Linked DNA regions of Homo sapiens. The protein of the gene in region 2 interacts with the protein of the main gene of each other region in a pairwise test. Each region holds a gene or a part of one and is shown on either strand. Other genes may lie near its edges.

Region 1 (3,500 bases), on a different chromosome or scaffold from region 2:
TGAGCCGAGATCATGCCACTGTACTGCAGCCTGGGTGACAAAGTGAGACCCTTTCCTAAAAAGAGGACATGGGAATTCCTTTCCCTTTCTCAATGTGGCCCAATGTATTTAAATGCCACCTCTGTGATCTGATGCCACCTGCCCACCCACCATGGTACATCATTTTTCAAAGTTTCTCTCCTTCTTCCAAGGTGTGTGATAAGGGGATGGGTACGGTTCGAAAGTGGCGGGGCTGTCACTGAGTGATGGTGACCTGTTTGGGAGGATGGGCTGGGGTTTTACTGTCTTTTCCTCCCCACTCCCTTAGTTTGCCGAGAAGTTCCAGGAAGTGAAGGAAGCAGCCAGGCTGGCCAGGGAGAAATCTCAGGATGGCGGGGAGCTCACCAGTCCAGCCCTGGGGCTCGCCTCCCACCAGGTCAGCACTCCCTACTCCCCTATGCCTGCCTGGGCACCTGTGAGTCAGCCAGGCGCTCAACTGATATTGGGGGACCTTGATATTGGGAGACCGGGGCACTCTGCTGGTCGTCAAGACCCAATGCTTCCAGATGACCTAAGGTTAGACCCACAGCAGGGACCACAGAGGAGTGGTGTGGAGTGTGTCATAGAGGGTCTGGACCTTGCCTGGGGCCGGTGGGGTACACCCAGTAGGTCCCAGTAGCAAAACCAGCTCAGATGGCAGGATGGAAGACTAGAAATTGAAATGGCTAAGTGTGGCCGGGTGCGGTGGCTCACGCCTGTAATCCCAGCAATTTGGGAGGCTGAGGAGGGAGGATGACTTGAGGCCAAGAGTTCGAGACCAGCCTGGCCAACATGGTGATACTCCACCTCTGCTAAAAAATACAAAAATTAGCCAGGCGTGGTGGCATGCGCCTGTAGTCCCAGCTACTCGGGAGGCTGAGGCAGGAGAATCGCTTGAACCCAGGAGATGGAGGTTGCAGTGAGCCGAGATCGTGCCACTGCACTCCAGCCTGGGTGACAGAGTGTGACTCTGTCTCAAAAAAAAAAAGAAAGAAAGAAATGGCTAAGTGTGAGGCAGAACAACGAACTGTCCCTGCGTGTTTTCCCACATTAATTTATTCAGCATTATTTATTGAGCACCTGCTGTGTACCAGGCCGAGGGCTGTGCACAGGGGTTGGAGAGATGAAAAAAAGCATGAGCCTCCAGCTGCTGCCTGCACTGGGCTGCGGTGGCGCTGGCCTCTCGCAGGGCACCCGCCAGCTTGTCTACCCTCAGAGCCAGTGGTCCAGGCAGTGGGGTTGCTCACGAAACACGAATTCGGCCTGGGCAGGGCTTCCTGCTGAAATCCTAAACGTGATGTTGAAGTTCGGCCTCAGGGAAGGGAACAGCAGGGAGGTGTCCGATTGTACCCCTCCCCTACCTTACAGGTTCTAAGTATCTTGGTTTAGACTAACCTGCATCAGACTTGCTCCTGGGGGTGGTGAAAGCCCAGGAAGGCAAGGTCGAGGGCGTGGGCATGGAACTCCCAGCTTAGGGGCCACAGGGAGCCATGGAGGGTGGGTGAGGTGGGGAGGGACACACTTGGATCCTGTGCTGTGAAGGACCTGCTTAGGGTGCATAGGTCAATTGCACCCCCGATGTGACGACCCCAGTCACATCAGCCTTGATCCCAGCTGATGTGGGGTCGTGACCTATTCTTTTCCCCGTGCCTAGGTGCCCCCGAGCCCTCTCGTCAGTGCCAACGGCCCCGGCGAGGAAAAACTGTTCCGCAGCCAGAGCGCTGATGCCCCCGGCCCCACAGAGCGCGAGCGGCTAAAGAAGATGTTGTCTGAGGGGTGAGGGGCGGGACTTGGGGGCGTGGCAGGGGCGGGGGTAGGGGTGGGGGACGAGGAGGCGGTTCTTGGAAGCCAAGGGAGTGCCAGGACGGCGGGATCTAACTGTGGACTCAAGACCTGGGGAAGGGGATGAGGATCTGAATGCTGCCCCATCCAGAGCCGACCCCGCCCCTACCCTGCGTTGGCCACGCCCCTCTGTTTTGACCCCATCCCTGTCTCTTCTCGCTGCTAACCTCGCCCCGTCGATGCCTCTCTGGTCTTAGGATAACCACCCTGACCACGCCCCCATCGGCTGACTCTCCCCAACCTCCCATCCCTCCCTCAACATTCCCACAGTGTCACTGGGCGGACTCCACGTGCCCCCTTCTTTGACTCGGTCCTCGACAAGACCCCGCTTCTGCGGGACTGCCCCATCCCCAAGCTCAGCAATCAGTGTCGCCACATCCCCAGCCCTGCGTGGCCCTGACTCCGTGCCCTAGCCCAAAGCCACCCCTCCTCTGGCCCCGCCCCCTAGCCCAGCATCGCCCGTGACTCCGCCTCAGCCCAGCGCCACCCACCCTGGCCCCGCCCCCTAACCGAGCATTGCCGCTGACTCCGCCCCCAGCCCAGTGCCACTCCACCCCTGCCCCGCCCCCTAGTCCAACTTCGCGCACGACTCCGCACCCTCGCCAGCCTTCGCCCTGACCTAAGCCCAGAGCTATCCCACCCCTGGCCCCGCCCCCTAGCCCAGCATCGCCCGACTCCGCCCCCCAGCCCCGTGTCACCCACTGCCGACCCTCGTGTCTCTGCAGCTCCGTGGGCGAGGTACAGTGGGAGGCCGAGTTTTTCGCACTGCAGGACAGCAACAACAAGCTGGCAGGCGCCCTGCGAGAGGCCAACGCCGCCGCAGCCCAGTGGAGGCAGCAGCTGGAGGCTCAGCGTGCAGAGGCCGAGCGGCTGCGGCAGCGGGTGAGGGCACCCCTCCCTCCGAGAGACCCCCACCTGGCCCGGGCAACTGTGGAGACCGCGCCTCGGCAGTTCCCATCTGCCCTGGGTTCATGGACTAGCTGTGTGACCTCAGCAGGTCACTGACCCAGCCTCAGTTTCTTGCTCTGTAAAATGGGTTTGAGACAATGCCAGCCTCAGAGGGTGATCAGACACTAAAGTCCAAGCTGTGCAGAGGGGGGTGGTGGCACCAACCAAGGGAGATGGGTGCTCGGTCCTGGGCGTGGCCAGACAGGAGGCAGATTCCCTAGAGGTTGGGCGAGCAAGGGAGAGTGCAGGCGGGGGCGTCAGGGGCTGCTATTCCTGCCCTACAGGTGGCTGAGCTGGAGGCTCAGGCAGCTTCAGAGGTGACCCCCACCGGTGAGAAGGAGGGGCTGGGCCAGGGCCAGTCGCTGGAACAGCTGGAAGCTCTGGTGCAAACCAAGGACCAGGTGAGTGCCAAGTGTGGTTCCTGGGCCTCGCCTTCCCTCACCTCCTGTGGGAAAGCCAGGACCCCCGCAACAGACCCTGGGAACTCTTCTCCTCTAGGAGATTCAGACCCTGAAGAGTCAGACTGGGGGGCCCCGCGAGGCCCTGGAGGCTGCCGAGCGTGAGGAGACTCAGCAGAAGGTGCAGGTGTGTGTGGGCACAAGGAGGTGGGGTGACGGTGGGTGACAGTCACCTCAACAGACACTCAGGACAATATCTACCTAAGATGATAAAGTATTGGGAGGCCCAGTCCT
Region 2 (2,517 bases):
GTGCTCTATAAATGTGCCTAAGGATAAGGCTGATGACCTCTGCTCCCAGACCCTTGGGGAATGGAGGTAGGGGGCAGGGGGACCTGGCACAGGCAGGGCAGGGCATGTGAAGGGGGTGGGGCCAATGCAGAGTGCTTTTAGAACATGTTCCCCCGTCTGGGGCTTTATCCGAAGCCACAAGACAGACCTCTGGGCAGATTGGTATGTCCTCTCTTCGGTCCTAGTTCCTGGGGCCTTTGAGGGAGTAGGGAGTGGTAAGTGATGGTTTCAAGCTGGGGTCCCTGGAGTTACACCCTGGCTAGCCTAAGCATTGACATGGGGAGGAGGTCACACCGGCCCTGGAGTGACCAGGCTCCTTTGCTTCCTCCCCCAGGTCAAAGTGTGGTTCCAGAACCGAAGGATGAAGTGGAAGCGTGTGAAGGGAGGTCAGCCCATCTCCCCCAATGGGCAGGACCCTGAGGATGGGGACTCCACAGCCTCTCCAAGTTCAGAGTGAGATTCTGCATGGAGGAAAAATGACTAAGGACTGAGCCCCCTACCCAACTACCCCCACCCCAATCCCACCTTCACCCTCTTCCTTCCCCAGCCAGGGCAGCCTCTCCACATCTTTCCCTGACTCTTGGATATGAAACTGCCCAGCATTCCTGGGAGTCTTAGGATTTTCTAGGAAGTTCTGTCCAGCCTCTTAGCAGCCTCTTCCCTAGGGCCTTTGCTCCCACACTCTCATGGAATCAGACAGAGATCCTACCGGGCCGGATGAATCTGGAAACAGCTTCAGAGATACTGCTTCTCAGCGTCTCTTGGCTGCCACCCATGCCTCCTCCTACCGCTGTTCTCCTAGGTCAGCCAGGCCTCCTCCTGGTCTGGACACCACCTGGCCTGGTGGGAGAGGAGCTTTGGAACCAGCTGGCGACTCGGAAAGTAAATGCTTCAAAAGGAAGGAAATGACAGAGACACACGCCCTTGCCCACCTTCCTCTGTAGGCTGCACATCTGAGGCTTTGGGGCCCCTTAGTTGTCCCGAAACCCCAAGAAAAATCAGAATGAGGAGAGTCAAGGACAGCAACTCAGCTGCTGCAAGCCAGAAACACATCCCTGTCTCCAAATTTGTTGGCTAAGTGGAGACACTTCTGAGAACTGACTAGAGAAGACAGAAAAATAGCCCGATGTAGGTTTCGGTGTCCCCATATAGGCCCGTCCACACAGGCTTGACTGGGTGGACAAGAATGAACCCATGACAGCACCTGCTGCTTCAAAATCAAAATCAATTTAGGGATACAGCAGGGGCTGTTGGGCTGTGCTCCAGAGAAAAGGAGCAGCTACTCCTTTTAAATCCACGATTTCTGGATTGAAAACCTGTCCAGATGCTGAGTTGTTGGGCTGAACAACTAGGAGCTGAAAACAACGTAGAGGCTGGAAAGTGTCCCCTGCATTCTGGAGGGGAGGGGAGATAATAAGGAGGGCTGCTGGGTGAGGGCCTGGAGATGTGGAACCCTGGAGTGGAAGGTTCTCCAGTGACAGTGTCCTGTGACTGCAAAAGGGGACAAGAAAATCCCTCTTCCTCCATGGGATGGATTTAAGCTCTTGCTGTGTGTTCTACAAATGCTGTTATTGTGGGAGGAAATGCTAGGTTTTTGTGTGTGGACTGCCCAGACCTCAGCCAGGTCTTCTGGAGATGACATTTGAGGACTGATGGCCAAAGAGCATGGGGGACTGAAGCCCTGGCTGCCTCAGCGCTCTGTCTCCCAACACCAGCTGGTGTTGCAGAGGGAGGTCAACGTGAGTTTGGATCTCTTGTACGCAGATGTAATCATTCACATGTAAAAATAACCCCACCTCCCCACCCCAAAAAGGGCAAGAGCTGTGGAAAATGATTGCCAAATGAGATGGCTGGTTAGAGCATGATTTTTTCTAAAGCATACTTCATATATTTTCTTAAGATTACATCAAGCTAATTGTGCGAGCTCAATTCACTTTGTAAGAAAACTCTCGGAGAAATAAAATCAATAAAAAGCAAAGTTCCCAGGCCTTTTTCTTTGCAGAGCGAACAACCACAGCTCTTGTGTGCAACCTTCTGATTGACCAGACAATGTCTAGAAGCAAGAGAAAAAGGGAAGAAATGATCTAGACAGAGCTGTCCCCCTTTAGTTTTTCAAAAGGTGGGTACAAAATATAATTGGTGCCAAAAAAAAATTTTTCTCCAATGCAAATGCATGGTCTTCATTTCTCATTGTAAAAGTTTAGCTTTCAGTTTCCCTAAACTATGACCTATCAAATAGTCAATGTTTTATAAACAAAAGATGAACTCTTTTGTTAATAAAGGAATCTTGACCACAAAGTAACCATCCCTAATGTTTAAATTCAAAGTTTGGAGATTTTATTTTTCAAGGTAGAAAAATGTATATTAATAGTAGTAAAAAATGACATAAGAAAAAATATCCCATATTTTGTCTTTTTTTTTTTTTTTTTTTTGAGACAGAGTTTCGCTCTTGTTGCCCAGGCTGGAGAGCAATGTCTT
Region 3 (3,132 bases), on a different chromosome or scaffold from region 2:
ACATCATATTAAAGTCCTGGAAGTGTAATTACTGGGTTAAAAAGTTTAAAAACTTTAAACTATTTGATACATAATGTTGAACTGGCCCCCATAAAAGGTTGTACCAAATTAATACTTACATCAAATGTGTTCCAGTAGAATAAACAGCTTTAAAATACTTTTGTGTTTTTTTTTTGTTGTTGTTGTTGTTGTTTTGCGATGGAGCCTTGCTCTGTCACCAGACTGGAGTGTAGTGGTGCGTTCTCTGCTCACTGCAACCTCCACCTCCTGGGCTCAAGCGAATCTCCTGCCTCAGCCTCCTGAGTAGTTGGGATTACAGGCACCCACCATCATGCCTGGCTAATCTTTTTTTTGAGACGGCAGCTCTGTTGCCCAGGATGGAGTGCAGTGGCGCGCTCTCGGCTCACTGCAAGCTCCGCCTCCTGGGTTCATGCCATTTTTCTGCCTCAGCCTCCAGAGTAGCCGGGACTACATGCGCCCGCCACCACGCCCAGCTAATTTTTTGTATTTTTAGTAGAGACAGGGTTTCACTGTGTTAGCCAGGATGGTCTCGATCTGCTGACCTCATAATCTGCCTGCCTCGGCTTCCCAAAGTGCTGGGATTACACGCGTGAGCCACTGCGCCTGGCCATGCCTGGCTAATTTTTGTATTTTTAGTAGAGATGGGGTTTCACTATGTTGGCCATGCTGGTTTTGAACTCCTGACCTCAAATGATCCGCCTGCCTTGGCCTCCCAAAGTGCTGGGATTACAGGCGTGAGCCACTATGCCCAGCCTAAAACACTTTAAAACAGATAATATTTCACATACTTTCAAATAAAGACAAAAAGGGTACACAGATCTAGATAAGTGGACACATCAACCACAGTAAGAAATGATCAGAATCATGGATGCACCCAATCATCAATATTAAGTATTGAGATGGTAATTGGATGGAGTGGAAGGCACTAAAGAGGACATCATGTTACTTATTCTTGACAGGCTTTGTTGAAGAATGATTTAAAATTCAATGGCGAAAAGCAGGAAACTTTGCAAGAGAGAAGCACATCTTAGTTTGCTAGAAGGAATGTTTCTTTCATAAATGCCACTTACCAGTCCAAAAGCTTAAGAAAAACTACATGTTTTGTTTCAAATGAAATTCCTGGGAAAATTTTAAGAGTTCTTTATTTAGCTAATATGGCTATTTTATATTTTATAGACTTATGGATGGTAGTGCTTTGCCACCTGTACTATTTCTTCATACTTAAGTCGGAAATTAAAATTTGACAAACCATGTGTATGCACTATTAAAAAAATAAATAAAATTTGACAATCATACCAGAAGCACTCTCATTTTGTAGCAAGGTTTTGCATAAAAAATTAGAGAGTGCGTCAATTGGGGAAACAGTACTGATATAAGACTCACAGAGCCAACATCACATGGAAATAGGCAAGCTACTGAAAATGCTTACCAAGGAAACTTACAAGGTTGCAATTAACTTCAGATCAACTGCACTTACCCATAATCCACTTTCATATGCTGCCCATTGAAGAAAAAGACAGTAGATGGAATATAACTGATGTCAAAATACTGTGTATAAACTGCAGTTTGGTCCACATCTACCAGGTATATAGCAGCCATTTTACTTAAGTCAGAAGAGGTCTTAGAAAGCTGCAAATGACGAGAGAGACAAAGGTTACAATATGAGAGGCAGCTTAATGTTTCTTCTGTGAAACTTGTTACTACAACAGAGTGTTTTGTTTGAAAAAACTCCTGGGCCAACAATGCAGCCCATGTGGCTCCCACATTAGACAAAGCATAACCCCATCCTCCAGAGTCTCATTCACTGCAACGGGGTTAGGAGGGAATCTTGGGGAAAACTGTATGAGGTTAGGAAGGGACCTTGGGGAAAACTGTGTGAGGTTAGAAGGGGACCTTGGGGAAAACTGTGTGAGTTTAGGAGGGTGACAGCATGGGAGTATTCCTGTCTATTCATTGTGGAGAGAGACCTAACCCAGAACTAAGACCTCTACCCGCCATTTCTACTGCTGCCATCCCGTGTTAAGAGCTGAGCATACAAATCCTTGGGGAAAACTGTGTGAATCTATTTCTTCCTTTAATTTCTTTCTTTGAATGCTTTTATAAAAGTAGCCCATGCTCATTTAAAACAACACAACTTAGAAATATGTTATGTGGATACTGAAATTCCCTAACGTCTCCTTCCTCCCAATCCTCCCAGAAATGAAAACCACGATAATTAGTAGCAGACACTTATATAACATTACTATGTGGTAACTGTCCTAAGTGCTTAACATTTGTTAACTCATTTAATCCTTACATCATTCTTATAAGGTATATGCTATCAGAGTCCCCATTTTATAGATAGGGAAACTGAGGCACAGGAAGGTAAAGTAATTTGCCCCAGGTCACACAGCTCCTGAGCAGTAGGGCTGGGGTTTGAACTTTGGCAGTGTGGCTTCAGTGTCTACATCACTGACCTCTGTGGTATTTCCTCCTGCTTATGACTGAGGGTAGAATCCTCTGGTCCTTTTTTCCCCAAGCTAACACATCACACCCTCATTGTAACCACGGAAATGAGGATTTGTACGCTCAGCTCTTACACGGGATGGTAGCAGTAGAAATGGCGGTAAGAGGTCTTAGTTCTGGGTTAGGTCTCTCTCTGCATCAGGCACATACTGGAGGCAGCACACTAGAAAAGATTATTTGCAGCTACAGAAAACTGAGTTCAAATCTCAACTCTGCAATATAGTGGATCTGCACCTGTGGGAAATTACTTGACCTCTCTGGTTTTTTTTTTCCTACTGGGAAATGGGGCTACTATTATCCCACTATTGCGAGCACTGAAAAGATAGTGTTCACAGATGCTTGTTAATAGTTTTCTGCTCTTCCATCACCTTGTTGGTGAAACAGCATTGACAGCTTCTAGTGGGTAAGGACATCCAAGACAGATTCAGCACACACAGATTTGGGGGCTTGGTTCAGGGCAGGCACACAATCAGCTCTTAGTGAACTAACAAATGAACAGCTATATACCCAACCCTGACTACTCCCTCTCATGTACTACTCAGATGCTGAAGTGAGAATATACAGATTATTAATAAAAACCAATTATTTTAGACATTCACTTACAAT
Region 4 (3,500 bases), on a different chromosome or scaffold from region 2:
GGTATCTTGTGATAACATTGAATATAATCTGATTTTCAGAGGTTGTCTTAACCCACTTCAAATAGTAACTCCTTTCTGGCTTTCCTGACCTTCCACCTCTTAAGACAGAATTTCTGATTTTTTACAGACTTTTGATAATAGAATCATCACAATGCTGTGTAAAAACATACAGGATCCATTTTTTTTTTTTGTAATTTCAGCACCTGATACCATATTGCATGTTTGCATTAGATTGTGTATACATTTAATCTTTTCTCTTTTTCTCTCTTTTTTGGGAATGCTTTCTTTGTGTCAAGCACTATGTTACCTAATAATAAACTATAACTAACATAAATAAATTGCAGTGTTATTACTACAAATAATTTGCAAATCAAAAGTCCAGCAATGTGAATTAATTTTGAATAGTAGTTGGGTAATTCTGACTACCTGGATTTTCTTACTTTAGCAATAATAACAAAAGTAATTTCAAATGATTTTTTATTTCCTAGTGTGACTGTGAAATACTATGGAAAAGCATCTCATTCTGCTTCTTATCCCTGGGAAGGATTAAATGCATTAGATGCTGCTGTGCTGGCCTATAACAATCTGTCTGTGTTCAGACAGCAAATGAAACCAACCTGGAGAGTTCATGGTATGAATGTCAAATACCTTCTATAATAGATGGTGCTTGCTATAGTTCAGTGCAGTATAATTATTTAATATTCAATTTTTAAAAATTTGGAAATATTTTTGTACTTCATATGAATATTCTGATTTTTAAGCATATTTTCAGAAATTCATGTGACAGGATACTAAGATGTTTGTCTATATAGGGTTAGAAAGACAGTTTTGATTATTGTACATAAATGGAATGTCATCTTTGAGTATCAAAGATAAAGGTTTTATGTAAGGGGCTGTGTTCTTTCGGTGGGTGTTTGAAAATTGGATCTTGATTTTCCAGTTGTCCTCATTATTTCTTAATGATAACCAAATTTTGTCAATTAAAAAAAGGTATAATAACTGCTAGTTTTATTTAAGTGCTGTTAGTCCTGAGTAATATCTTTTTGTGTGATTTTTTGTTTTTGAGACAGTCTTGCTCTATTGCCCAGGCTGGAGTGCAGTGGTGCAATCTCGGCTCACTGCAACTTCTGCTTCCTGGGTTCAAGTGATGCTCCTGCTTCAGCCTCCCAAATAGCTGGGATTACAGGCAGGCAGACACCACCAAACCCAGCTAATATTTGTATTTTTTGCAGAGACGGGGTCTTGCTATGTTGGCCAGGCTGGTCTCAAACTCCTGGCCTTAAGTGATCTGCCCACCTCAGCCTCCCAAAGTGCTGGGATTACAGGTGTGAGCCACCATGCCTGGTCCTGAATAGTGTCTTTTAAAATTATATATATATATCACCATAATATAAATACAGTCAAAGTACTGTCTTGAAGGCACACATTTGTTTAATTTATTTCCTTATGATTTAGGAAATTGTTATATTTTAATATCTATTCTTTACCTGATTTTGCTATAGCCTGAGGTCAATTTGTAATTGTACTTTTACCAGTTTTCCTGCTTTAGTTTCTTTAAAAGGAACAAACAGGAATGTGTAGAAATATTTTTTTAAAGTAGGTCATAGGACATTGGATTTTTTGTATCTATTTTAGTTATTACTTCGAATGAATAAATCTTAATTCTTTATAATTCCAAATAAATACATTTGTTTTGACAGTTGATAATACTTAGTGATCTTTGACCTGCATTGGTTTTTTTCTTGGCATGAAAATTATTTTTCCTATAGCTAAATGCCATTTAAAATGCTCATGGGATTCCTGAGGTATGAGGGTAATTATAGAACCTCATACCATTGTTGAGGTATGGTAAAATCTTTTCCAGAAAGCTTAAGATGTTACTAATTTTTTTTGTGGTTATATAATTTCTAAGTTTCATTATAGTCTGGATCATAATTTCTTAACATTATGTAAATTCTTCTGAATGAAGTGCATATGGATAATTATTTTTTCTTATCAGCCAAAAAATATCACCCTATGTAAAGAAATTTCAGTTGTACAACATAACAAAATCTTTGATTGGTGTATTGGTGGAGCTAGTGAGTTTAAATTATTTTTCTTTATGAACATATTGGCTGAAAAACTTAATGGGTGTATTTAAGCTTAAAGAAATGGTCACCAAGCTTAATTCTAGTAATTTGGTTCTTTTTATAGGTATAATAAAAAATGGTGGTGTAAAACCCAATATCATTCCCTCTTATTCTGAATTAATCTATTACTTCCGTGCACCCTCAATGAAAGAACTTCAAGTTTTGACCAAAAAGGCAGAAGATTGCTTCAGAGCTGCAGCTTTGGCTTCAGGGTGCACAGTAAGAACTTTTAAAAGTTAATCTAAGTTACAATCAGAGGTATATATGTGGGCTAGCACTGTTAGATTGAAATCTAACTTGACTCTCTTATTTGGTGACATGTTGAATATGCAAAATGAATTGGCTGAATAGTTAATGTGAAAGTCTTTAATTTTTACACGTTTCATTCCTCAGTGCTTGCAATAGGGAAGATGACAGGTCATCTTACTTATATAGTAATTAGAATAATTCTGATACTTCTATGCTAGAATCCCTGCCTTTTTACAAGTTATATTCTTCCTTGTCGGCAGTTATACTTTTAGAATTGCTATATGTAGTTTCTATAAAGGAAAGTTTATGGCAAAATCAGCAAAAGCTTTTTTTTTTTTTTTTTTTTTTTTTTTGGTGGGGGGACAGGGTGTTGCTCTATTGCCCAGGCTGGAGTTGCAGCGGCACGATCTTGGCTCACTACAACCTCCGCCTTCCAGGCTGAAGCAATCCTCTCACCTCTGCCTCCCACCTCAGCCAGCTGAGTAGCTGGGACTACAGGCACGCACCACCACACGTGGCTAATTTTTTGTATGTTTTTCTGGAGACAGGGTCTCACCATGTTGCCCAGGCTGGTCTCAAACTCCTGAGCTCAAGTGATCCACCCACCTCGGCCTTCTAAAGTGCTGGGATTATAGGCATGAACCACCTCGCCCAGCCAGCGAAAGCCATTTCTGAAGTTAGGGTGTGTATAGTAGTGATATAAATACTATGGCTTGCTGGAATGGAAGATAAAATAGACACAGAAGTTAGTTAAGAGGTTTTATTGATTTGTTTCTGTTTGTTTGTTTGTTTTTGAGACAAAGTCTTGCTCTATTGCCCAGGCTGGAGCGCAGTGGTGCAATTTTGGCTCAACGCAACCTCCTCTGCCTCCTGGGTTCAAGCGATTCTTATGCCTCAGCCTTCCAAGTAGCTGGGACTACAGGCGCTTGCCACCACACCTGGCTAATTTTTTTTTTTCTTTTTTTTTTTTGAGGCGGAGTCTTGCCCTGTCACCCAGGCTGGAGTGCAATGGCGCAATCTCAGCTCACTGCAACCTCTGCCTCCCAGGTTCAAACAATTCTCCTGCCTCAGCCTCCTGAGTAGCTGGGATTACAGGCGCCTGCCTCCACACCCAGCTATTTT
Region 5 (4,036 bases), on a different chromosome or scaffold from region 2:
GTCTCAAACTCCTGGGCTTAAGCCATCTTCCTACCTTAGCCTCCCAAAGCATTGGGATTATAGGCATGAGTCTCTATGCCTGGTTTAATTTAGTAATTTTTTTTTTTTTTTTGAGATGGAGTTTCACTGTGATGCCCAGGCTGGAATGTAATGGTGCGATGTCGGCTCACTGCAACCTCTGCCTCCCGGGTTCAAGCAATTCTACTGCCCCAGCCTCCTGAGTAGTTGGGACTACAGGCATGTGCCACCATGCTGGGCTAATTTTTATATTTTTAGTAGACACAGGGTTTCACCATATTGGCCAGGCTGGTCTCCAACTCCTGACCTCAAGTGATCTACCTCGGCCACCCAAAGTGCTGGGATTACAGGTGTGAGGCACCGCTGGCGGCCTAATTTAGTAATCATAACGCCTGAGGCATCTGGCTTACCTGACCTCTCACCCTGGGATGGGAATCACAGGATCTCTTCCTAAATATTTAATGAGTTGTGCTCAGAATGGAACCCCCTCTCCATTACTCCCAAGTCCTCCAGGCTCACTCATCTCTAGTGCTCCAGTATTACTTGGGGAGGCCAGGGCTGCCCTGCCAAGCATGATCTAGGGTCTTACCTTTCCTGTACCCTGCTACGCCAAAATAGCCAGAGTTTCAGTACTTTGGAGCTGCCAGGAGTTGGCACAGTGCCCTGGTGGTGCCCCCCTTGCCTAGTGAGTGTGTGGGCAGGCTGCAGCTCCTCTCTTGCCTGGCACGGGGGAAGGAGAGGAGGGAGATGAGCCGTTGGATTTATTTAGAGCCTGATCTCCCTCCTACTGCTTCAGAGGGGGCCTCAGGGAGAGCAAGGAGCCAGGCAAGAGAAAGGGAAGTGGGGGAGGGTGATCAGAGCCAGAGAGAGATGGGAGGGAGCAATGGGTCAGCAGGCTGCCCTCCAACACCATCCACATGTCAGTCTGCTCCTTGCAATAGCCCTTGCCTTCTCACCAGGGATGGGAAGAACCTCCTAGGGCCATCCAGCCCCACAGAGAGGTTTGTTTTCAAGCTCACCTTGGCACCCTGGGCTATACCAGCTGTCCCTTCAACTGTCAGAAAGAGGTGTCCACCAGAGCCTTGAAAATGATCTGATCTAGCGGCAATGTAATTAGCCCCAGAGGCCCCATGGAGAATTGGGCCCAGAAGGAGACCAGTCCCAGAAAAGGACAGTTGCCTATTCTGAACATCAGCATTCATCTATCCTGGGCCTGGCAGTAAGTGATGGGAGAAGACTTGAACATGAACTCCTCTTTCCGACCCAGGGGTGCTCCAACCTATTGGGGCCCCTTCCAAGCCATCTAGTGGTCCACTCCTAAGGAGGCCTTCTTACAGGACATTTGAGGGAAAGTTGTCAGCTCCAAGGGGCTGAGAAGCTGCTCCGCATTCTTGCCCCATCTTTCCAGGCACTCTCCCTGCTGTCTGAGCTCCGGGAATCACTGCTTAATGAGCTGATTTGTCTCAGTGGGTCAGGAGATAAAAGCAAAGAGGAGAATTAAATATTTATCGGTTGCCTGTTTCTCTGAGCAAAGCGCTTCCTCTCCATCCCCAGGCCCTCAGCTCCTCTGGCCTCACCTCCAGGCCCTCCATGCTGGGCAAGAGCTCAGGATGCCCGCTGCAGAGGAAGCCTCAGCAGGGGGCTGTGGAATAGATGGGGCTCAGTCACCTGGCCTACCCATGTGCTGGGCGCCCAGGTTTCAGCCTGGGAGAGAAACTGGGCTAGAGAAAGGGTGAGGAGATGAGGCAATGCGCAGAGATGGAGGGGGTGGAAGGGAATAATGGAGCTCCTCAAGTTTTAGGATCCGTCTGTCTGAAGAGGTTGGCCCCTGGCTCCCTGATGTCCTCTCAGCTCCCTGATGTGTCGTTTGCTTGAGGCACAAGAGGTCTAGAATGTCTGCCTCCCCAACCACCTCGGCGGCTCTCCTAGCTGTTGTGTTCAGACCCCAGAAATCCAGAATTTGGAACTCCAGACATGGCGTGTTCCCTCTCCAGAGCCTCTGTGCCCTCGGCCTCCAGCCCTGCCTTCTCCCACCCCTCTTTCCTGGGCCGTGGAGCCACCTGCTTGAGCCCTTCCCCTATACTGCCCCCTCTCTGCACACACCCGATGCCCCAGGGTCTGAGTCTGGGTCGCTGGGGAACGCTTGGCATGAAAATCCATCTCCCCACGTTCTTAGAGCGCCCCCCTACAAACCCTGCCCTGCCACTGAGGCGTTTTTCAAAGTCCTGAACCGGGGAAAGGGTTGAAGGGAGAGGAGGTGTCACCCCAACTTCCCCGCCCCCACCCTCATCGTGGGCACTCACCGCCTCCGAGTCCTCAAACCCGGGCACGTAGGAGTCGTCATACATGGGGGAGTCCGGGTCGGGGGAGCGAGCGGCGCCGGGGGCGGGAGCGGCCCGGAGGCAGGGGCAAGGACTGCGGGCCGCGCCCGGGAGATGCCACCGAGCCCCGCAGCCCTGCGGGCGGCGGCAGGGAGCGAGAGAGCGCGAAGGAGGGAGCGAGCCGCGAAGACCAGCTGCTCGGAGCTCAGATCACCGCTCCCCCCACCCCACCCCCCCAAACCCAGCCGGTCCCACCCCGAGCGCGGCTGAGGAATCTGGCGCCGGCTCCTACAACAATAGTGCCCGCCCACCTGACCCCCTCCCCGGGAGAAGGCGGGGGCGGCGAGGGGGCGGCGGCCACCGGGGAGCCCGGGCCAGGCCGGGAGAGGGGAACGAACCCGTGCTAGGTGGAAGGTGGGTCCCCGAGCACCTACGGGGCCGTGGCGGCGGGGAGGAAGGGGAGGAGAGGCTGCGGGCAGGGCGGATCCAGGCAGGGAGGAGGCGGGGCGAGGAGAGATGCGGAGACAGAGACGCTCGGCAACCCAGGAACTACTCCGCCGGGAAACAAAGGGCTGCGGCGGGGGAGGGAGGGGGCGCTGAGACCGCGAGGGAGACGCGACCCGGGCGGAGACTGGAGAGGGCGCAGGTGTCGAGGAAACCGGAGAGAGAGAGGCAGAGGGAGGACGGAGAGGACAGGAAAATGGGGAGACCGTGGGAGACAGAAGAGGCGCGGGAACGAGCGGCAGACGGGGGAGGGGTCCCAGGCGACAGCAGGGCGGGTCTGGGCCCGTGCGTCCCGGAGGCTCCGAAAGCAAACCCCGCAGTGGTCCCGGGGAGGAATGGGCTTGGTGCCCCCAGGCTAATGACAGGACGGCAGCTCCTGCCCCAACAGGTGCCCGGCCCCCTCAGTACGGGGACGCTGCGGCAAAGGCGGTGTTGCCCAACCCTTGAGAAGGGGGGAACTTTCCGTGAGCTGGGTAGGCCTCCCCACACCTGTTGCACGGATAGATTTTGTCTTAGTCCTGCCAGGATGGGGGTTCCCTTCCCCACTTCCCTGCCAAGGATTGTGCCAGACAGTGCCAAGGCATCCGTGGGAACTGGGGCAGAAAGGGGCTGTTTTAGGTGAGCCTAAAGGGAAGGGGAAAGAAGCCAGAGGGTGGAGGTAGGGGGATAGTTGTGGGTGGGATCCTGGCTACACTCGGGTTGGGAGAGGAAAGGGCCAGTCTCCTCGGAGTCACTAGGGTAAGGCCAGATTCTCCCCTTAGCAGAAGGGCTTGTACCACTCTGCACCACTCAGTCTCCTTTACAGGAGCATTGAGATTTGGGGTAAGAGAGCCGCAGCCCTTATCTTGAGGAAACTTTCCCCAAAGATCCACCCATTTGAGCTCTTTCCTTTTTTCATCTCCTGAGCAAAATTCCTTCTTTGATTTTTGACTGCCTACCTTTGTGCCCCACGAGGAGGATGTGCGTAGACAGGGGTTACACTTGGAGGCCTCCTGGTGCCCATGCTCTTGGCCCTGAGCTCAGTCCTTTTCCTTCCCAATTTCTCACACCCGGGAGTTCAGCAATCTGCTCATCCCTCCTTGGCTTGAGGAGAATCAGAAATCCAAAACTCTGACATGGCTTAGTAAGATCTATGGTAGAAAGCACTGTGCATGGGAGAGAGAAAGCCCACCCAAACCAAGTGGCTTCCCACC
Region 6 (3,500 bases), on a different chromosome or scaffold from region 2:
ATCCCGAGGAGGTGAAATCGGTTCGGACTTGATGCTGATGTTTTGGTTGGTATTAATGGATAAATTGGAACCCTGAGATAACTGCCCTCCAGCACTGAAGGAAAAAAAAGAGAGAGGTCAGATGGCTTGCAAGTACCTCTGCAAAACTGGGATGATACAGTAGAGACACTGCCTGATGGAAAAGGGCCCAGAGTCTGAAATCTTATCAGAGTTCCCCAAGACTGGTTTGGGTCGTTTCCTTCAGTGCTTGGCACAAAAGGAAATCCCATCTTCCTAGGAGGAAAGAAAACAGTACCGTTGAGCCCTTACGTTACTTGGTTCTGTTACCCACAACGTTGGTACTTTTGCAGCTAAAGTATACAAAACAATGTCAGTGTCTTAATGCTGTGCAGGGACCAGAAAGACAGAGGAACAGCAGCCTCATCTGCTCACCGCCTCTTCTTCCTCAGCATCTGCTCCCCATCTGCTCTGGCCCTGTGACAGGGCACAACATCGCTCATCCTCGCAACACCTCTAAGGTGCAAGTCGCACCATCCCCATTTTCCAGATGAGGAAATGAGGGGCTGGCTGAGAGCAGTAGAGGAGGACGCAAACAGGCTGTTCCCCGGGCCTGGGCTCTGAGCCCTTTCCACTTGCTTTTCCAGGACTATTTTTAGTGCATTCATTTAGGATGCTCAGGACAGGCCTGAGGGCCAAATCCTGTGTAGGCAAATTTCCCTGAGATACTCTGCTGCTTTTTCCATGACATAATTCCTAAGAAGACCACTGACAACAATCCTCACTGTGCAGTTACTTCAGAATGGATGAGGGAAAGGGACTGCTGAGCTCAGGCTCTCTGGGGACTTCCTGGGCAGAGGCTAGGGGCCTGGGGTATTCCTACTGCCCAGAGCACAGGCAAGGCAGCCAGTCTTCATGGAGGCCAGCTGGGTCTGCTATGTTGTCCCCTCTCTTGGGACACTCTCCTCCAACTGCTCCATGGGTCTGCTGTCATCCTGGTTCCACAAAAGCCCTGTTCTTTCTCCCGGCTGTCAGGGATGTCTGGCCTCATCTGGGCGCCACTGTAAATCCTCTTTGCTTATATCCTTACACCCTGCCCATACGGAACATTCTCTTTGTGAATGAGGTTTGGTGTGTGCATTGGGCTGGGATCAGTCACACAAATCCTATGGAGCCTGACTGATATATAAGACACCCTGTCCCCAGTTTTCCTTCCCTGTGGCCCAGGGAGAAAGCAAAAGCTCCAGCTTGTCTTCCTATTCTTGTCTACAGATACTCACCAAAGCAGTCAATGGCAAGGGTGGCAGGGAGGCCTGAATGCCTACAGGCTGCCTTTCAAGCAGTGCAGCCAGAGGCAGGTGCTTGGGAGCAGGGGTGCAGTAGGCAGCTTCATCACTGGTCAGAGGGCAGAAGGATGGTGCATGCGGGTGGTATCTGTGCCTTCAGACCCCTTCAGATCCTGGTTGAGTCTCTCTACCTCAGGATGTCCCTATGGGAGAAGCCTTGCTCCCCAAATCCCTTCAAGGAATGCCTAGTTTGTCAGTATCCAAGCTACTGTCTAGAGCCATGTAAGAAAATATTTTCTCCCGACACTTGTATCTACCTGAAAAGGAATCATTACAGGATTCCTCACACGAAACTCAACAGAGCAAAAGGCTGTCACTGATAGGAAAAGAGAGTGTGTAGGCCAGGAGTAAAGATGCAGGGAAAACTTCTAGTTACTCACACAAGAGAGCTGAGGGCTGCTTGTCCTAGGTGGTGCTGCTGCCAGGCCGACACCTGTCCCAGCGACAGCATTCCTGGCGAGTTGAAGCCTTGAAGGGCTGACAGGTCAGCGCTGGTCAGTGAATAATCTACAAAGGAAGACAAGAGGGCTCTGCATATGATGGAAGGTCCATACGGAATCTATTTTTTACGTAGCTACTGCAAAAGTTCCTACATTGAGGCCAGCCATGCTGGCTCATGCCAGTAATCCCAGCACTTTGGGAGGCCAAGATGGGCGGATCACTTGAGGTCAGGAGTTTGAGACCAGCCTGGACAACATGGTGAAACCCCGTATCTGCTAAAAATACAAAAATTATCCAGGCGTGGTGGCGCATGCCTGTAGTCCCAGCTACTTGGGAGGCTGAGGCAGGAGAACTGCTTGAACCCGGGAGGCAGAGGCTGCAGTGAGCCGAGGTAGCACCACTGCACTCCATCCAGCCTGGGCAACAGACTTCCTCTCAAAAAAAAATAAAATAAAAAGTTCCTACATTGAGAGAAGCCAGATACTTCACAACAAAACAACATACATGTGGGTCTAAAATCCGCAAAATCTTTTCTTGGAAGATTTACAGGATCTAGCAATATTTCTTTGTCTGGGATGATTCAAATAAGAGGCCATCATTAAAGAGTGTTCTGTACAATTGTTACTTTAAATATGCCTGCCACTACCCTTTGGAACAAAGAGAAACACTCAACCTCAACCAGAGTGAGTTTGAATCAGCAAGTCTTAATGAAGCAAGGGGTTGGGGGACAGGGAATAGGGGACAGGAAAGACAGAATCCCTACATGGGGTGCCAAGCTCAGTGACATCATTACACAATTAGTAAGCGCATTTGTTTAAAGTACCTAGACTGTCGCAAACTCCCTGACAGCATGCAAGAGTTTCAACTTCATGAAAAAACTCGGTGTCCTAGAGTATACCCAGCTCATATCATATGAATGCTTCAGTCGTAATCACTGGGACCAAGATTTAGGACGTTAGTTATCACTCACACGGGGAGTTATTTCAGCTCATCATTAACACTTGTCTTTCTCACTTGGTTCCAAAGAGAGGTGGCAAAACTCTTCTACTTTTATCTTCTTTCTCATGTCTCAAGAGAGGTGTTTAAAGAAATTGGTCTTCCTAGTGAATTAACATTTTAAAAAAGGAACGGAGTTGAAGCGACACAGCTGGTGCTCAGGGCTGTCCTGACTCTGCCCTTGTCATTCTATACACTCCCATGGGCTGGGGCAAGGACCCGTCACACTGACGCCTTCCCCAGTGCTCCCTCCGGCCCACAGTCTCCTTCGACCTCTAGATCTTTTAAACGACCTAGTGCCATGTCCATTTGGACGCCACTCCAAACGCCACACATCTGACATGGCCCATCCTTTCCTGCAAACCTGTTCCTCCTTAAGTACTCTTAGTACATGGCACCAACATGCACCCAGCAGCTCGTGCAGAAGCCCATGGGTGTTATCCTTGCTACTTCCCTTCCCTCTCACTCCCAACATCAATTTCCAGGTCTGAGCAATTCTATCTGCTCTCTCTCAAGCCTGCCCAGGTCTCACCATCTCTACTGCCACCTCTCTAGTCTATGCTATCAGCACCCATTGCTTGGACCACTACAGTAGCCTCTGATGTGGCTTCCTGGCATTGCCTTTTAACCCTATATACAGCAAAGACATCTTTTTAAAATAACAAATATGGTCATGGCACTCCTCTACTTCAAAAGTTTTTTATGGCTCCCCAATGCTCT
Region 7 (3,500 bases), on a different chromosome or scaffold from region 2:
CAGTTCAAGACCAGCCTGGCCAACACGGTGAAACCCTGTCTCTACTAAAATACAAAAATTAGCCGGGCATGACGGCGGGTGCCTGTAATCCCAGCTACTTGGGAGGCTGAGACGGGAGAATCGCTTGGACCCAGGAGATGGTGGTTGCAGTGAGCCAAGATTGTGCCACTGCACTCCAGCCTGGGGCGGCTGAGCAAGACTCCGTCTCAAAGAAAAAAAAAAAAAAAAAAAAAGTTGGCCAGACACGGTAGCTCACGCCTGTAATCCCAGCACTTTGGGAGGCCAAGGTGGGTGGATCAGGAGGTCAGGAGTTCAAGACCAGCCTGGCCAACATGGTGAAACCCTGTCTCCACTAAAAATACAAAAATTAGCCTGGCGTGGTGGCGGGTGATGTAATCCCAGCTACTCAGGAGGCTGAGGCAGGAGAATCACTTGAACCCGGGAGGCGGAGCTTGCAGTGAGCTAAGATCGTGCCACTGCACTCCAGCCTGGGTGACAGAATGAGACTCTGTCTCAAAAAAAAAAAAAAAAAAAAAAAGAAAAGGCATGGGCTCTGAAACCAGACTCACTTGGGTTCAAATCCTAACTGTTCCTCTTACTAGTTGGGTGACCCTGGGCAGGTGATGCCATGTGTCTGAGCCTCAGCTTCCTCATCTGAAAATGTAGATTGCAACCCCATTTCCACTGTTACAACAAATGGATGCTGCTGAGGGCAGGTACAAGGGGTTATACAAAGGGTAATGGTGAGGGGCAGTGGTATGCCGAGTTGGGCCTGGGGATTTCATGCGGGGAGGATGAGGCCAGAACTCACCTGCAGGAGGAACTGGGCAGCCACAGGCTTGTGGTCGCTGACTGTGTATTCCATGTGGCTGCGGTAGCTGTGCTGCGTCACCTGGAGTCGGTGGCTCTTCCGTCCTGAGGGGCTGGGACCCCCACCTGGAGCCTTGACCTTCCATAGGATACGGTCTGTCCAAGCTGGCTTCCGTTTCTTGGCACTGCAGTGAGCAGGGGTACCCCAAGTTTCAGGGGCTGGGGATCAAGATGTAACCCTCCACCTTGCCTCCTGCCCCTCTTCCCAAAGTCTCCCTGTTCGAGAAGACCTCAGCCCACTTCCCCTCAGTCCCTCCTCGGACTGAGCTCACCTGGTATCGTATTTGTTGGTACCCACATCAAACTTGAAGGTGGGAGCGAAGTTGAGGGGCCCCTCCTGAAAGCCCTTCAGAATGGGCCAGGTGTTCTTGGCCATGTTGAGCTGTGGGGGGTCCAGGAGAGCAGATTGGACAACAGCTTGGGCTCTGCTGTGCCCAGGGAGGGGGTGGGGCAGGTGAGGACAGGGACCATAGTCTAAGGTACAGGCGTGTCCTGGGACATGCTCTGTGTGCTTCTGGGGACAAGGACCCCACCTGGTCCTTCTCCCAGAGCTGATGGAGCTGGTCACTGTCGATGGCAAACTTGACAAAGTGCAGGTCATAGCTCTCAATGCGGAAGTTCAGGTCCCCGAACCAGAACACGAGGCTGTTTGGGGTGGGGGATGGGAGAGATGTGGGGGGCAGTGGGGGGTGTCAACAGGTCCATGGAGGATAAGGGCTCAGCCCAGATCCTTCCAGCCCATCCAACCCGAGGGGATGTAGTGAGTGGGTGAGTGGTGCCAGAGCCTCCAGCCCACCAAAGGGCAGAGGAAAAGCAGAGGGACCGGTCTACAGGAAATTAGGTTCTGACCTTCAGCAAGGCGGGGCCCCTCAGCAAAGCTCCACCCTACAAGCTCCGCCCCTCCCCATCCAACTGCTCTCTGCTTTCGTGTTCCTACAACTAGTTTGGGTGGGCACTAAACCCCATAGGCCCTGCCTCTCTCCATAAGCCCCACCCAAGGTGGTACAAAAACCCCCATCACTAGCCCCACCCAAGCTCTATTTGGCCCCACCCCAGCCCATACTCATGATCCAGGATGCCCTGTGCGCCCGGCCCTTGGAACTGCTGGAGGCTGAGGATGGTCTGGAAGTTGTCTTTGCGCTGCTCCGCCTTGTCCATATGCGCAGGCAAGTGGCAGTTCAGGAAGCAGAGCATGTGCCCGAAGGCCGCCAGGCGCACGCTCACGCCACCCTTGTTACCCTAGGGAGGCAGGGTCGGATGGCTCATGGGCGGGGCTTAGGCCAGGAGGTGAGGCACTGGGAGCGGGGGTTAGAGAGGAGATGTGGGTGGAAGGTGGGTGGGTCCTACAGAAATGAGGAACAACGCTGGGACACAGTGGGGAGAGAAAAGGGCGGGGGTATAGAGGAATAGGATGGGGTATTGGGTGGTGCATGGGGGGGCTGGGCCGCAGGGTAAAGGGTGGAGGATGGGAAGGGGACCTTGCTGTGCATGGGGCGGGGGGACTAATCTAAAGCCCCCTTCATGTCCCATCCTCTTCTGGGCCTGCTCACAGGCTCACCCAGTAGCCGCCCAGGCCAGTGCGCGTGCAGTCGGTCTGCACGTCTCGCAGGAAGGGCAGGTGGTAGTACTTGGCGAACAGCAGCAGGATGACACCCTGCATCCTCACCGAACTCACCTGCAGCGGGAGGCCACGTGGCTGGGGGACAGAACACAACTCCCCCGCCCTCGCGCCCACCTTCAGGTCTGCTCCTCCACCCACCCATGTCACGGACCCAGCCACAGAGGCCCAGCGGGCCCCACAGTGAGCCAGGGTACAGCTGGAGCCAGGAATTCAGCAGGGTCTCTGGCTGTCCAGGGGGTGAGGGGTGCGTTACCAGCACGAAGTTGAAGGGCCCTAGCGCATCCATGAACAGCTCACTCCACTGGTCCGTGAAGAGGGCGTCCTTGAGTCGCTTGTTGAGCATGGAGTTCACTTCCTGCAACCTGGAGGGGTGGGGGCAGGGTGGCCATGGGATTGGAGAGGTGCCCTGGAAGCCCCTGCCATGGGTGGAGGGCCCGGAAGGCCCGAGGGGCTCAGGAGGGGGTCCACATGCCCTGCCACCTCACCCTATGGCGATCATGTCTGCGCCGTCGCTGTCGTCACCACCGCCCAGGTGGAGGAGGGATGTGACATCGTCTGGGGGCATGGCAGTGCCCACGTTCCATGTGACCACAGTGATCCTGAGGGCAGGGGCATATGAGGGTGTAGTCCTGGCACCACTCCCTCACCCTCAAGCTTCCTTTCACAGGACTCCCTGGGGAACTAAATGGAGGCAGGTGTGGGCCAAAGCCCTAAGAAGGACCCACAGGAGGCCCCGAATCCTGTCCCTCTGCCACACTCTCCCTGGGGAGATCAACTGAGAGGCGGCAAGTTCCTTAGGAGGGGATGCTATCTTCTGAGCGTCACAGAGTGGGCCCAGCAACCCCCTCCCCAAAGACTCTTCCTCAGAGAGAGAAGCTGAGGTAGAGCACACCATCCACCCTGGAAGAATGGCTAACCTCAGAGCTAAGCCCCAGCCACCTTTCTTGGGAGAGGGCCCCCTCACCGGAAGCCGGGGTCGCTCTTCCAGGTAGGCTGAGCTGACCAAGGG

The links.
Region 1: the proteins of MEOX1 (region 2) and HOMER3 interact in binary tests that used the Homo sapiens proteins (3 or more experiments, as listed by UniProt).
Region 3: the proteins of MEOX1 (region 2) and TXNL4B interact in binary tests that used the Homo sapiens proteins (3 or more experiments, as listed by UniProt).
Region 4: the proteins of MEOX1 (region 2) and PM20D2 interact in binary tests that used the Homo sapiens proteins (3 or more experiments, as listed by UniProt).
Region 5: the proteins of MEOX1 (region 2) and CACNB3 interact in binary tests that used the Homo sapiens proteins (3 or more experiments, as listed by UniProt).
Region 6: the proteins of MEOX1 (region 2) and MEF2A interact in binary tests that used the Homo sapiens proteins (3 or more experiments, as listed by UniProt).
Region 7: the proteins of MEOX1 (region 2) and INPP5J interact in binary tests that used the Homo sapiens proteins (3 or more experiments, as listed by UniProt).

What each region holds. Positions count from the first base shown.
Region 1 is NC_000019.10:18,931,218-18,934,717, reverse strand, and holds part of HOMER3 (homer protein homolog 3), read left to right. Parts: intron 1-307; coding exon 308-415; intron 416-1,672; coding exon 1,673-1,794; intron 1,795-2,585; coding exon 2,586-2,742; intron 2,743-3,092; coding exon 3,093-3,209; intron 3,210-3,306; coding exon 3,307-3,393; intron 3,394-3,500. UniProt on the Homo sapiens protein: Postsynaptic density scaffolding protein. Binds and cross-links cytoplasmic regions of GRM1, GRM5, ITPR1, DNM3, RYR1, RYR2, SHANK1 and SHANK3.
Region 2 is NC_000017.11:43,639,889-43,642,405, reverse strand, and holds the end of MEOX1 (homeobox protein MOX-1), read left to right. Parts: intron 1-373; coding exon 374-496; 3' UTR 497-2,017; downstream 2,018-2,517. UniProt on the Homo sapiens protein: Mesodermal transcription factor that plays a key role in somitogenesis and is specifically required for sclerotome development. Required for maintenance of the sclerotome polarity and formation of the cranio-cervical joints.
Region 3 is NC_000016.10:72,087,489-72,090,620, forward strand, and holds part of TXNL4B (thioredoxin-like protein 4B), read right to left. Parts: coding exon 3,130-3,132; intron 2,690-3,129; exon of another isoform or gene 2,601-2,689; intron 1,651-2,600; coding exon 1,499-1,650; intron 1-1,498. UniProt on the Homo sapiens protein: Essential role in pre-mRNA splicing. Required in cell cycle progression for S/G(2) transition.
Region 4 is NC_000006.12:89,152,555-89,156,054, forward strand, and holds part of PM20D2 (xaa-Arg dipeptidase), read left to right. Parts: intron 1-488; coding exon 489-631; exon of another isoform or gene 632-635; intron 636-2,193; coding exon 2,194-2,348; intron 2,349-3,500. UniProt on the Homo sapiens protein: Catalyzes the peptide bond hydrolysis in dipeptides having basic amino acids lysine, ornithine or arginine at C-terminus. Postulated to function in a metabolite repair mechanism by eliminating alternate dipeptide by-products formed during carnosine synthesis.
Region 5 is NC_000012.12:48,817,260-48,821,295, reverse strand, and holds the start of CACNB3 (voltage-dependent L-type calcium channel subunit beta-3), read right to left. Parts: upstream 2,801-4,036; 5' UTR 2,367-2,800; coding exon 2,322-2,366; intron 2,251-2,321; exon of another isoform or gene 1,354-2,250; intron 1-1,353. UniProt on the Homo sapiens protein: Regulatory subunit of the voltage-gated calcium channel that gives rise to L-type calcium currents. Increases CACNA1B peak calcium current and shifts the voltage dependencies of channel activation and inactivation.
Region 6 is NC_000015.10:99,708,984-99,712,483, reverse strand, and holds part of MEF2A (myocyte-specific enhancer factor 2A), read right to left. Parts: intron 1,851-3,500; coding exon 1,724-1,850; intron 95-1,723; coding exon 1-94. UniProt on the Homo sapiens protein: Transcriptional activator which binds specifically to the MEF2 element, 5'-YTA[AT](4)TAR-3', found in numerous muscle-specific genes. Also involved in the activation of numerous growth factor- and stress-induced genes.
Region 7 is NC_000022.11:31,125,966-31,129,465, reverse strand, and holds part of INPP5J (phosphatidylinositol 4,5-bisphosphate 5-phosphatase A), read right to left. Parts: coding exon 3,456-3,500; intron 3,173-3,455; exon of another isoform or gene 3,091-3,172; coding exon 2,977-3,090; intron 2,854-2,976; coding exon 2,745-2,853; intron 2,546-2,744; coding exon 2,429-2,545; intron 2,110-2,428; coding exon 1,934-2,109; intron 1,692-1,933; exon of another isoform or gene 1,516-1,691; coding exon 1,404-1,515; intron 1,253-1,403; coding exon 1,143-1,252; intron 996-1,142; coding exon 812-995; intron 1-811. UniProt on the Homo sapiens protein: Inositol 5-phosphatase, which converts inositol 1,4,5-trisphosphate to inositol 1,4-bisphosphate.